Homo sapiens: one gene and its partners. The protein of the gene in region 1 purifies or fractionates together with the protein of each later gene. This does not show direct contact. Each region holds a gene or a part of one and is shown on either strand. Other genes may lie near its edges.

Evidence for each region. The genes of interacting proteins can lie anywhere in the genome.
Region 2: the proteins of CHSY3 (region 1) and STK17B purify together in Homo sapiens (affinity purification with mass spectrometry; one large-scale study listed by BioGRID and IntAct). This does not show direct contact.
Region 3: the proteins of CHSY3 (region 1) and TLR5 purify together in Homo sapiens (affinity purification with mass spectrometry; one large-scale study listed by BioGRID and IntAct). This does not show direct contact.

Annotation. Positions count from the first base shown.
Region 1 is NC_000005.10:129,910,965-129,914,464, reverse strand, and holds part of CHSY3 (chondroitin sulfate synthase 3), read right to left. Parts: intron 1-3,500. UniProt on the Homo sapiens protein: Has both beta-1,3-glucuronic acid and beta-1,4-N-acetylgalactosamine transferase activity. Transfers glucuronic acid (GlcUA) from UDP-GlcUA and N-acetylgalactosamine (GalNAc) from UDP-GalNAc to the non-reducing end of the elongating chondroitin polymer.
Region 2 is NC_000002.12:196,137,079-196,140,578, forward strand, and holds part of STK17B (serine/threonine-protein kinase 17B), read right to left. Parts: intron 2,722-3,500; coding exon 2,542-2,721; intron 652-2,541; coding exon 369-651; 3' UTR 1-368. UniProt on the Homo sapiens protein: Phosphorylates myosin light chains. Acts as a positive regulator of apoptosis.
Region 3 is NC_000001.11:223,133,249-223,136,748, forward strand, and holds part of TLR5 (toll-like receptor 5 precursor), read right to left. Parts: intron 1,617-3,500; 5' UTR 1,434-1,616; intron 1,235-1,433; exon of another isoform or gene 1-1,234. UniProt on the Homo sapiens protein: Pattern recognition receptor (PRR) located on the cell surface that participates in the activation of innate immunity and inflammatory response.

The DNA of each region.
Region 1 (3,500 bases):
CATAAACATGTTCATGATTGAGTAAAATCAACATTAGAAAAGAGGGAAATTTGGCTGGGCGCGGTGGCTTACGCCTGTAATCCCAGCACTTTGGGAGGCCAAGGCAGGCAGATCACCTGAGGTTGGGAGTTCGAGGCCATCCTGACCAACATGGAGAAACCCCATCTCTACTAAAAAAAATACAAAGTTAGCTGGGTGTGGTGGTGCATGTCTGTAATCCCAGCTACTCGGGAGGTTGAGGCAGGAGAATCACTTGAACCTGGGAGGGGGAGGTTGCAGTGAGCCAAGATTGCAGCATTGCACTCCAGCCTGGACGACAAGAGTGAAACTCTGTGTCAAAAAAAAAGGGAAATTTATATGGAATAGGAAGCTAAGAAGGATGTGCAGCAGCCCTATAAGAATAACACAGATATTTTAACCTTAAAAATATGTTATTAAGAACTTATTGATAGTTCAGTTTCATATGGTACAGCTTTCTGATATTACTTACAAGCTCAGGAAAACACTTCCAGAACATATCCTTTTGTGAAATAATGTAATTTCCTAGGGTGTTTACAGACTTTAAGAAACTAAGATTGAACATAAAACATTCTAGTGTAAAATTATCACTTTAAGGAGTCTAATGAAAATCTAGTTAGTCTTATGAAATAATTTTTAAAACTACAGATAAATATTTTTACCAACATAGAACCCTGCTGTCTTTGAAATAACATTTAATTGAATGAAATAGATATCTTCTTTGGCTCTATTTTACTGCAAACATTAAAATGATAAATACAAACTATTCTTAAACTGACTCTTAGAAGAAATGCAAAACTCCTTCAAAGGGAGAAGAACAATAATCAGAATTAAAATTATTTTATGAATTGAATATAAGTGATCTTGTTAAAAACAAAATCAAAAAACAAAACTTTCAGTTCTGCTAATACACAAAATGAACATGAATGTATAAATAATTTTTAACAGTGAGAATATTTTTGTTATTTACTAAAAACATATCTATAATAAAATGTAACTATGTTATATGATATACAATTTTAATGGCCAAATTTGTAACATATTAACTCTTCCATAAATTAAAGTATTTTAAATATGCCTCTCAGTCTCACTGGAAAATCACTTCATTTTCTACAGAATATTATCATGAAACTTGCAATATGTGCATTATCTAGTTCAAAAGATCAAAACTTTTATGCCTATGTAAGCCAGGCAGGGAAAATAAACGTGAAAGAAGAGTCTTACAAATAATAAGAGGACATGAAGGGAACTGTAGATTGCCTGCCTCTGCTAAAGGTGTCAAAAAACAAAAACAAAAGCAAAAAACCTTAAAATACTCTATGTGCCAAACAGTGTTTAAGAGCCATATGCAGCCTCCCAAACTGCCAGATTGCAGCTCTAGAAAAGCAGTAGCCAAGATAGAGCTCAACCAAAAGTGTGATCTTTGCCAACAGGAGAGGCCAATAAATTCTAACACTTGCAGAGTGAATAGAATAGAATGCATGCTTCATTCAGTTAGTAATCTTTGCTTATAAAGTTTGAGGTATAACCCATGAAGTCTGTTGGTTATTAACATCTGCCATATGGCCTTAAAACAAGATGCCTCAATCCTAAGTGGGAAAGGGAGAATCTCAATTTAGACTCTCCAATGATCACAGGCACACAAAGAACCAGTCTGTATAAGGCTCACCCTCAACCAAAGGCCTCTTTATTCTGAACAGGTCAGACCATGCTGGAGGCCTAACTGTGATCTACTGTGGTCTGGGTGCACATCCAGTGATCTTTTAAGATATCTGGATTGGCCTATATGAGCACATTAATTTACTAGGAACCTGGTGAAAAGCAGTACATATCAAAATACATTTGAAATTTATTTTATCTATCACCAAGCGGAAGGAAATAGAAAAAGTGAGCAGAGAAGACAGAGAAAAAGAGCAAGAGACCAACAAGCAAGACATATTTCCCCAGACCACCTGGGCCTTATTGAGAGAAAGGCCAGAAGCTGCAGATCATTACCTCAAAGACCTGAGGTACACCAGGAGGAGGTTCCCACTGCCTTGAGAGACAAGCCCCTGGGTGTTCATGAGTTGACTGGAGAATGAGATACTACTCACTTCCTTCCCTACTGAAGATGCCAGAGAAATTCAAAAAAGGGGGCCATTGTTCTGGCAATTAATTTAGAAATCTATACTGTAATTTTTTTCCTTATGTAGATCTGTTTGGGATTCTTTATATATGTATATTAAATAATAACTTGTTAAGTAATATTTTCCACACAACATCCTCAAATTCAGTTATATATATCTTATACATATTAGGTGCAAAGACTGAAACAGATATTTGTAATGCATTTTTAAAACAGGTGTCCATATTTCATAGTAAGTTTTTTTGTTGTTGTTGTTTGTTTGTTTCTTTGAGACGGAGTCTTGCTGTCTCCCAGACTGGAGTGCAGTGGGCTATCTCGGCTCACTGCAAGCTCCGCCTCCCGGGTTCACGCCATTCTCCTGCCTCAGCCTCCCAAGTAGCTGGGACTACAGGCGCCCGCCACCACGCCTGGCTAATTTTTTGTATTTTTAGTAGAGACGGGGTTTCACCATGTTAGCCAGGATGGTCTCGATCTCCTGACCTAGTGATCCGCCCGCGTCAGCCTCCCAAAGTGCTGGGATTACAGGCATGAGCCACTGCGCCCAGCCCATAGTAAGTTTTACTAATACTGAATTCCTCATATTTCTAAAATACTGCAACATACTGGTTTCTTATTCTTTGCCAAAAAAAGCTTAACTCTCTGAGAATTTATTTTTTATTTTGACCCTTTTGATGTAAATGAATCACCCATCCATTACTAATGATTATTAAGTGAAATATATGAATCCATGTTGTATAATATAGTACGTGATATCTATAACATTAGAACAATAAAAACTAACATCTACTGAAAATTTACTATGTGACAGACACTACATTAAGGGCTTTACATGGATTATTTCACCTAATCTTTCCTGAAATGTATGAGATAAACACTCTTAAAATCTCCACTTTCAGTTGAATTACACACGACTTAAAGAAGTAACTTGCAAAAGACAATTAAACTAGTAAGTGTTAGGATGGTGGCTCAAACCCCAGTTCATATCCCGCTATTACCTTTCTCTCTCTTTCTCTTTTACAACATATTTTTAATAGTATATACAAACACAGAGAAAGTAATTTCAGTTTAGCAGTTAAGAAGAATACTAGAAGCTTCAATCCTGGATTTTTAAAAAATATAACTTATATTCAAGGAAACTATACAATTATATATTTTATTTAATAATTATTTCAATTCTCTTTTTATAAGATCTGTAAGCACGTTCACCATTTTTAAAAGATGACATTCTATCATGAACACTTCATCTATTCAAACTTAAAAATCATGAACATGCCACCTTAACAGGACTCTCAACTCTGAAAGAACTTTTGTTAGGAGGATAAACCAAAAAAAAAAAAAAAAATCCTAAAATTTGTGA
Region 2 (3,500 bases), on another chromosome or scaffold:
TCCAATGTCTTCACTGTGTTCAGTTTACACCAACTATAATAAAACTCAAGCCACTTTTTTTGTTGATATGCAAAACATTCTGGTAAGTTCATTTGAAGTTGAATTATTTCATTAACATGTAAACTCACATGTACAATTTTACTTTTTGTCATATATTTAAATATTTTCTTATCTGCAGAGCTATCTCAGGATATGAAATCATAACATGCTAGCAACTAGTAATTTAACATTAAAACACTTCCCTAAATTATTCCATGGAAAAGTGCATTTACAATATAAACATGTCATATATGAAGCTACAAATCATAATCTCACTGGAGTGGATATAAAATTTCAAATTCAGTCCAAATGAGTCAAAGAAAAAAGTGCTAACAGAGCAAATCTGAAACAAGTTCATGGGGATTGGGTAATGAGTCATCGAAACGAAATCTTTTGGAAACCATGCTGCTATCCTCTGGGATATTCTCTTTGTCTTCTCTATCACCACAGGTTCCATTACAGGAGGATTTAGAAGTCTTGTCTTCAGAGGACCTTACAGAATGATCCTGAGTTTGAGAGGAACTGGAAGTTTCTTCAGGGTGAAACAAGTTTTCAAAGTCCCACTGCTGTAGCCAAGAATGAGAAAGGCATATCTCTGCTGTTGGTCTTTTCCTTTGAAAGAAAGCACCAAGGGAAAATTGAGAACTAAAAATCAAGTTGAAAATGTCTTCAGTTTGATAGATTATAGACATATTTTTTACTTCTTGTGAAAATAAAACATACTCATAGTATAAAATCCAAACAGTACAGAAGAGAATAATAATGATAATAGCTGCTAACATTTACTGAATGCTTAGTTATATGCCAGGGACTATTCTATACGCTTCAAATACATTATTTAACAATCATAACAAACTCATGAAATGGGTACTATTATTACCCTCATTTAACAGATATGCAAAGTAGGGTACCAGGAGGCTTGAAATTTACCCCAAATCTCCTAACTTGTAAATGGTAGTTAAGTGGAACTTTGACTCTATCGTCTGTGCTTTTAAGCATTACACCATATTATCTCTCATGAAGATAAAAAGTAAAATTGTTTTCTCATTCCCCAATCCCACTTCCAGATATTTTTTCTACATATATGTGCATATACATACACAAACATATACACACACATACACATACACAGCTTCACATACTCCATGTTTCTGCAATTTGCTTTATTACTCAATAATGCATCTCAAGCATTTTTCCACATCAGTACAGAGTTAACATATTTATTAACAGCTGTATTATTTAGTACTCTTCCATATGGATACACCATAATTTATTTAACCAGATGCCCATTGAAGCTTCTAGCATTTTGCTATTATAAATATGCTTCAATGAATATTGAGAAAATGTTTTTTGGGATCTTCTCTAATTATGTTCATAGGATGAGTTACTAGTAAAGCTAGTGGGTCTTTATATTTTGAAAGACGGTGCTTAACTAACCTCCAAATCACTTTTGGTTTTTTTTTGGTTTTTTTTTTTGCAATGTAGTCTCACTCTGTCACCCAGGCTGGAGTGCAGTGGTGCGATCTCAGCTCACCACAACCTCTGCTTTCTGGGTTCAAGCAATTCTCCTGCCTCAGCCTCCTGAGTAGCTGGAACTATAGGTGCATGCCACCATGCCCGGCTAACTTTTGTATTTTTAGTAGAGATGGTGTTTCACTATATTGGCCAGGCTAGTCTCGAACTCCTGACCTCATGATCTGGCCGCCTTGGCCTCCCAAAGTGCTGGGAATACAGGCGTGAGCCACCTCGCTCAGCTGACTCGCTTCTTTTGTAAGGTTGTCAAAGGGCATCCAATCCTTCAAGATTTCACAATCAGTAAATGATACTTGTTATGTATGTAAAATTATTTTATTTTATTTATTTTTTTGAGACGGAGTCTTGCTCTGTCATCTAGGCTAGAGTGCAGTGGCGCGATCTCTGCTTACTGGAAGCTCTGCCTCCCGGATTCACGCCATTCTGCCTCAGCCTCCCAAGTAGCTGGGACTACAGATGCCTGCCACCATGCCTGGCTAATTTTTTTGTATTTTTAGTAGAGATGGGGTTTCACCGTGTTAGCCAGGAGGGTCTCAATCTCCTGACCTCGTGATCCATCTGCCTCAGCCTCCCAAAGTGCTGGGATTACAGGCGTGAGCCACCGCGCCCGGCCGTAAAATCATTAAACTGTAAATCATTTACAATAAAGTCTTATCATAACCAGCCATGTGTATTGTAAATTTCTATGACTAATTATTTTAGGTAATTTCAGGGATTAGTAGTGGTTTGTGAGAGAAGTAACTCAAATCTTTTCTTTACTTCAAAATCCCCTGTTGTATATTTTATATCTGAAGTTATGTATTTGTTAATGATTGCTCATACCACCTATTTTACCTAGAACTTGTACATATTTCTAATAATTTTATACTATTTTAGAATATACTTTCTTAATAGGTATATATTATTTATTCTGTAATAGTATTTAAACAAATTAAATTTGTAATAGTATTTAAACAAATTATTACTTACTCTGGATTTTTTACTAAAAGGCTCTGAATAAAGTCTGTGGCCAGCTGTGAAACTGATGAAAAAGTTTCTTCCGAATAATCTACATTAACTTGAGAAATATTGAGGTATGTTTCTTGATTATCTTCTCCCACAAATGGTGATGTGTGAGTTAACAACATATATGCTATTATACCAATATTCCTGAAAAACAAGGGAGGGGAACTTAAAATGTATGTTAATTTTTAAACATTTATACAAAGTACAATCGACATTCAACATACTCCTCTCCTCAAAACTGGTACGGTTAAACTACAGATTTACATTGCTTTTCAAAGTTCCTATATTATTAAAACTAAAATAATGATCTCAAAGTGTGCCTCACAGAAAGAGAACACAAGGGAATGCACGTGTTATATAAATACAATGTATTCAATATATATTATTGCTACCGTCTATCCTTCACACAGATACCTGCCGTGGAGTACACAAAGCTGCTGCAGCATTTCCTAAGTGGTTTCCAATGGCAAAGTAATGACTTGTGAGATGTAAAGAGAGGTTCTGCACAAATAGAGGCTGCAAGTTTGGCGAAGCACAAAGCTGGGCAGGCAAATTTTTTCACTGCAAACCTTTTAAAATCTGTAAATGTGTTAATGGCAAGTCTGGTGCCCAGGAGCCAGAAAAAGACAATATAGTACATGTTTCACCAACTTATTTAGCCATACCATCTTTTTTCCTGGGCAAACCCATGAGCAGTTCCACAGAACACAGAACAGGTCTAAACCTTCCACTTGGTCTGAGGAGTCAGTCCCCTTTGTGGTCTCAACTGAAGCTCCAGTATCAGTTCTGGTTCTATTCCCTATGGTATTCTCTCTTGGCTAGCTACAAAAACTCATAATTTCCCAGAGATGTACTCTCATAAAAGTACATTTTTGGGTGGGCCTGACCTAATTATTCTGCTTAACAAATACCTTCTTCTAGCT
Region 3 (3,500 bases), on another chromosome or scaffold:
TCTCACATTTATTACACTGTGGAGCTCGGATTTGAATCCCGCTGCAAACTTAGTTGTCACTGTGACCTTTGAACAAAACAAAATTGAATATGCTGCAAAACATCCACAGAGCCTCAAAGCGAGCTCGGAACCTGAAACGGCCCGCCTGAGACCTCCTTGAAACGGTGATTCTGATTCATCAGGGCTGTGGCTGAAGGACCTGAGAGTCTGCATTTCTAACGGGCTCCCACGTGATGCTGCTGCTGGTCCACTGACCACACTGTTAGCGGTGAGAACCTAAGAGTCTGTAATTGCCTCCCTGCTCATTACCCCCATGCCCACGTGAGCTGCCTCGTTCTTCCAGGATAAGGCATGGCTAAGATGCTGCACGATTGGTTTTGAGAAGGGGCTATACTAATACATTCACTTCCCCTTCCTCCCCATTTTTCTCAGCGCTGAAGAGTGAAGCATCAGAGAGTACCTCAAAGAAGATTCATGTGAGGCTTTGAGGAGGAGGGGATGGATGGGTCATATCGCTTTACTAGGAGCTAAGGAAACGGGACAGCTTGGGTGCGACTTCTGATTTCAGGAGATGCGCTTTCCCTAGAGACCAGCAGAGGGCGCAAAAGGGGCAGGGACCGAGGGGGAGGAGCCCGCGGAGCCGCGGCCGGAGAGTCGAGCGGGGCGCGGGGAGCTGCAAGCGTCCCTGAGCTGAGCTCCGCTGGGAAGTTCCTATCGCTTGCGCAGTAGAGTGCATTTAGACATTTCAATGACAACTAAATTTGTAGCTGGATTCAAATCCTAGCTCCACAGTTTAGTAGGTGTGTGAGCTTGGGCGAGTGCTGAACCTCTCTAAGCATCAGTTTACTGCCTATAAAATCACAGCAATAAGTTTCTACCTCCCACCCCCGCCGCCCCTACCCCGGCAGCAACAGCCTGCTTCCGGCTTCCAGGGATCCTCCAGTGCCCAAACCAGAATATCCAGTTACCCATGCTTAATACTCCAACAGTTCTTGCTTGCTGAAGTAGGCAGCCATCATTTACGCAACTACACCTTACCAGAAACGCCTTCCCTTTAGAACACTGAAGGGGAAAGTTAGAGAGGGAAAGGAAATTTCTCAAGGCACTGGGGTGATTTTGTGTTTCTTTAGCATGAGTTACCGGAAAGCTTCCTGTGTTTTCTTTACTATCTTTAGGTGGTGGTTCCCAGCATCAAAAAACAGCAAAAACAGCAGCAAGCAAAGGCGCTGATACTCTGAAAAGTTATGTTGAAAACACATGGTTTAGGTACAGAATGGCTTCCCCGTTGTTTGCACATTATAACTCTTTAGCACACAATTTTAAAGCATCTGATTGAAAGAAATAATTTTTAGTGATTATTAAAAACGAACAACTAGCACAACATTTAAAATCGTCGGGAAAAGGTGGCTCGCCCAGAAAGTGAACATCCCTACCTGTCTCCAGGTTCGGACAGCGCCAACATTCTCAATTAGAAAATTAACATCTGAGGCTCCGACATCTTCCCTGGATGCTAAATCCTGTGTATTGATGGGCAAAGTCAATTGCCAGGAAAGCTGGGCAACTATAAGGTCAGGGGGCTGGAGCAGATGAGAGTAGGGAAGTCCAGTATAGCATCCCTGAAAGTAATGACACAGACAATCTGCTAAGCGCTGCAAAAATCATTTGGAGTGTGATGTAAATTGGAAACAGCTGGGGTGGGGGTGGTGACCGGCAACTAGGAACCCTATTAACCTGATCAGTTAGATACGAAATGGGAATGTGAAGAGAGAGTATCAAACACTTGAGAACTGTTCTGAGAGGGATGTGTAGTCTGTGCTGGGCTAGCAAAGGAATCAAGAGAAAGCTTCCCAGGCAGATAAAATCCAATGCACCCTGCAGCTGCTGGAGACACCCCCTGATGCAAGGTAAGCCCTGAAGAGGTTGAGAAGGAAAGGTGGGGGGCACTCAGGCCAGGATGAGGATGCCCTGAGAGGAAGATGATTTCACTGGTGTTGCCTGAGGGACTGTAAGCAGGGACAGGTGAGGCTGGGGAGCGCACCCCTGCTGGAAGCACAGGTCCCCACCCTGTGCCCAGTGTCCTGGGACCCGAAGGAGGTTTACTGCATGTGGAATCTGCCTGGGCAGGCTGCCCAGGGTGGCTATGCTCCATTCTGAGTCAGGGCAGGGAGTCAGCTAGTTGATTTGGCTCCAACTTGCTAGTGGTGGTTACTTTCGAGATACATGAGACCATGGCAAAAATGCTGGGCTGGGAGAGGATAAATATCGGTTCTAGTCCTCCTTCAGCCACAGTCTGGGTATCCTAGACAACTCTAACTTTCATTGTCCTCAGTTTCTGCATATGTATAACGGTGAGTTTGAAATGGAAGCATTTTTAAATCCTTGTTAACTCTGAAGTTATCTAAGGAAACTTGCTGAGTATCATCATGACAGCAATCATAGACCAGGGCCAATCCTCCCTGAAGCAGAACATTCCTTCTTCATTCTGGCAAATTTGCAAGGCTGTTACACCGGATCTTGAAGATACATAGTGGAAAATGATGTTATTAATGTACCGATGAAAAAAATGGAACCACATATATCCTAGCTTTAAATAGCAACTTTTTCCCCCCTCAAGAAATTACCCTCAGAGGAGCTTATGTCTGCGGCTAGATATTTTGAGATTTGACTTTTTTTTCCCCCTCTCCTTGTATTTCTGCTTTCCTAGGCTCACCTCCACCTCTGTAGCCAGCTCCCTAGTCATTGGTCCAGGGCAGGTATATGTCAGAACCCTACCAGGAATAGCCTGCAAGTTCTTCTGGCTTTGATTTTCCAAACAGGGCCTTAGGTTGGGGACACAAAGTCTTTGCCAAGTTGGGGGAAGAGGGGTGGGGTGTGCTGATGGGTAAAGCAGAGAGACATGCTTCTAGAAACAGGAAGACAGGAAGGGAAAAGGGGTCTGTCAGCACCAGGAAGACAGGACTCTGGCAGGACCCCAGTGAGTTAGCTATGTGGTCTGGAAGCAGTGAGGACTTGCTAGGCAAGACAGGCACAAGAGTGCCTTCAGTGGTAACCCGAGTGGACCAGATGGGGGAGCAGGAGATACCTGCACCCGAGCCCCTGGGATCTTGGCAATGCATAAGAGATCTGAAATTGTGACACAGTGACACAACCTGGGGTGATTTCTATGGTTGCTGGCCAGATGAGATGAAGGCTCTAAACTAATATTAATATCTAGAAAATAGAGGAGAGGCAGTATTTCTTGCACATCTGTGCATGCTAGAGATTCACACTCACTACCCTTTTGGTTCACAGGTTGGGAAATAAAAGAAAAGGTAGTCTTGAAGCTATCTGAACCCAGTTATATCTCTGACCAAGATGAGGAGGAATCTCAGACCCCAGAAACTCAGGACTAAAAGTGACTTCTGATTTTGCCTTTATCATGGTCTTCTGAGTTCAAATCCAGACAGTTTCCCTGACTGTAAAATGGGATGGTTATGAAGAGTAAATGAGATGGGACATAT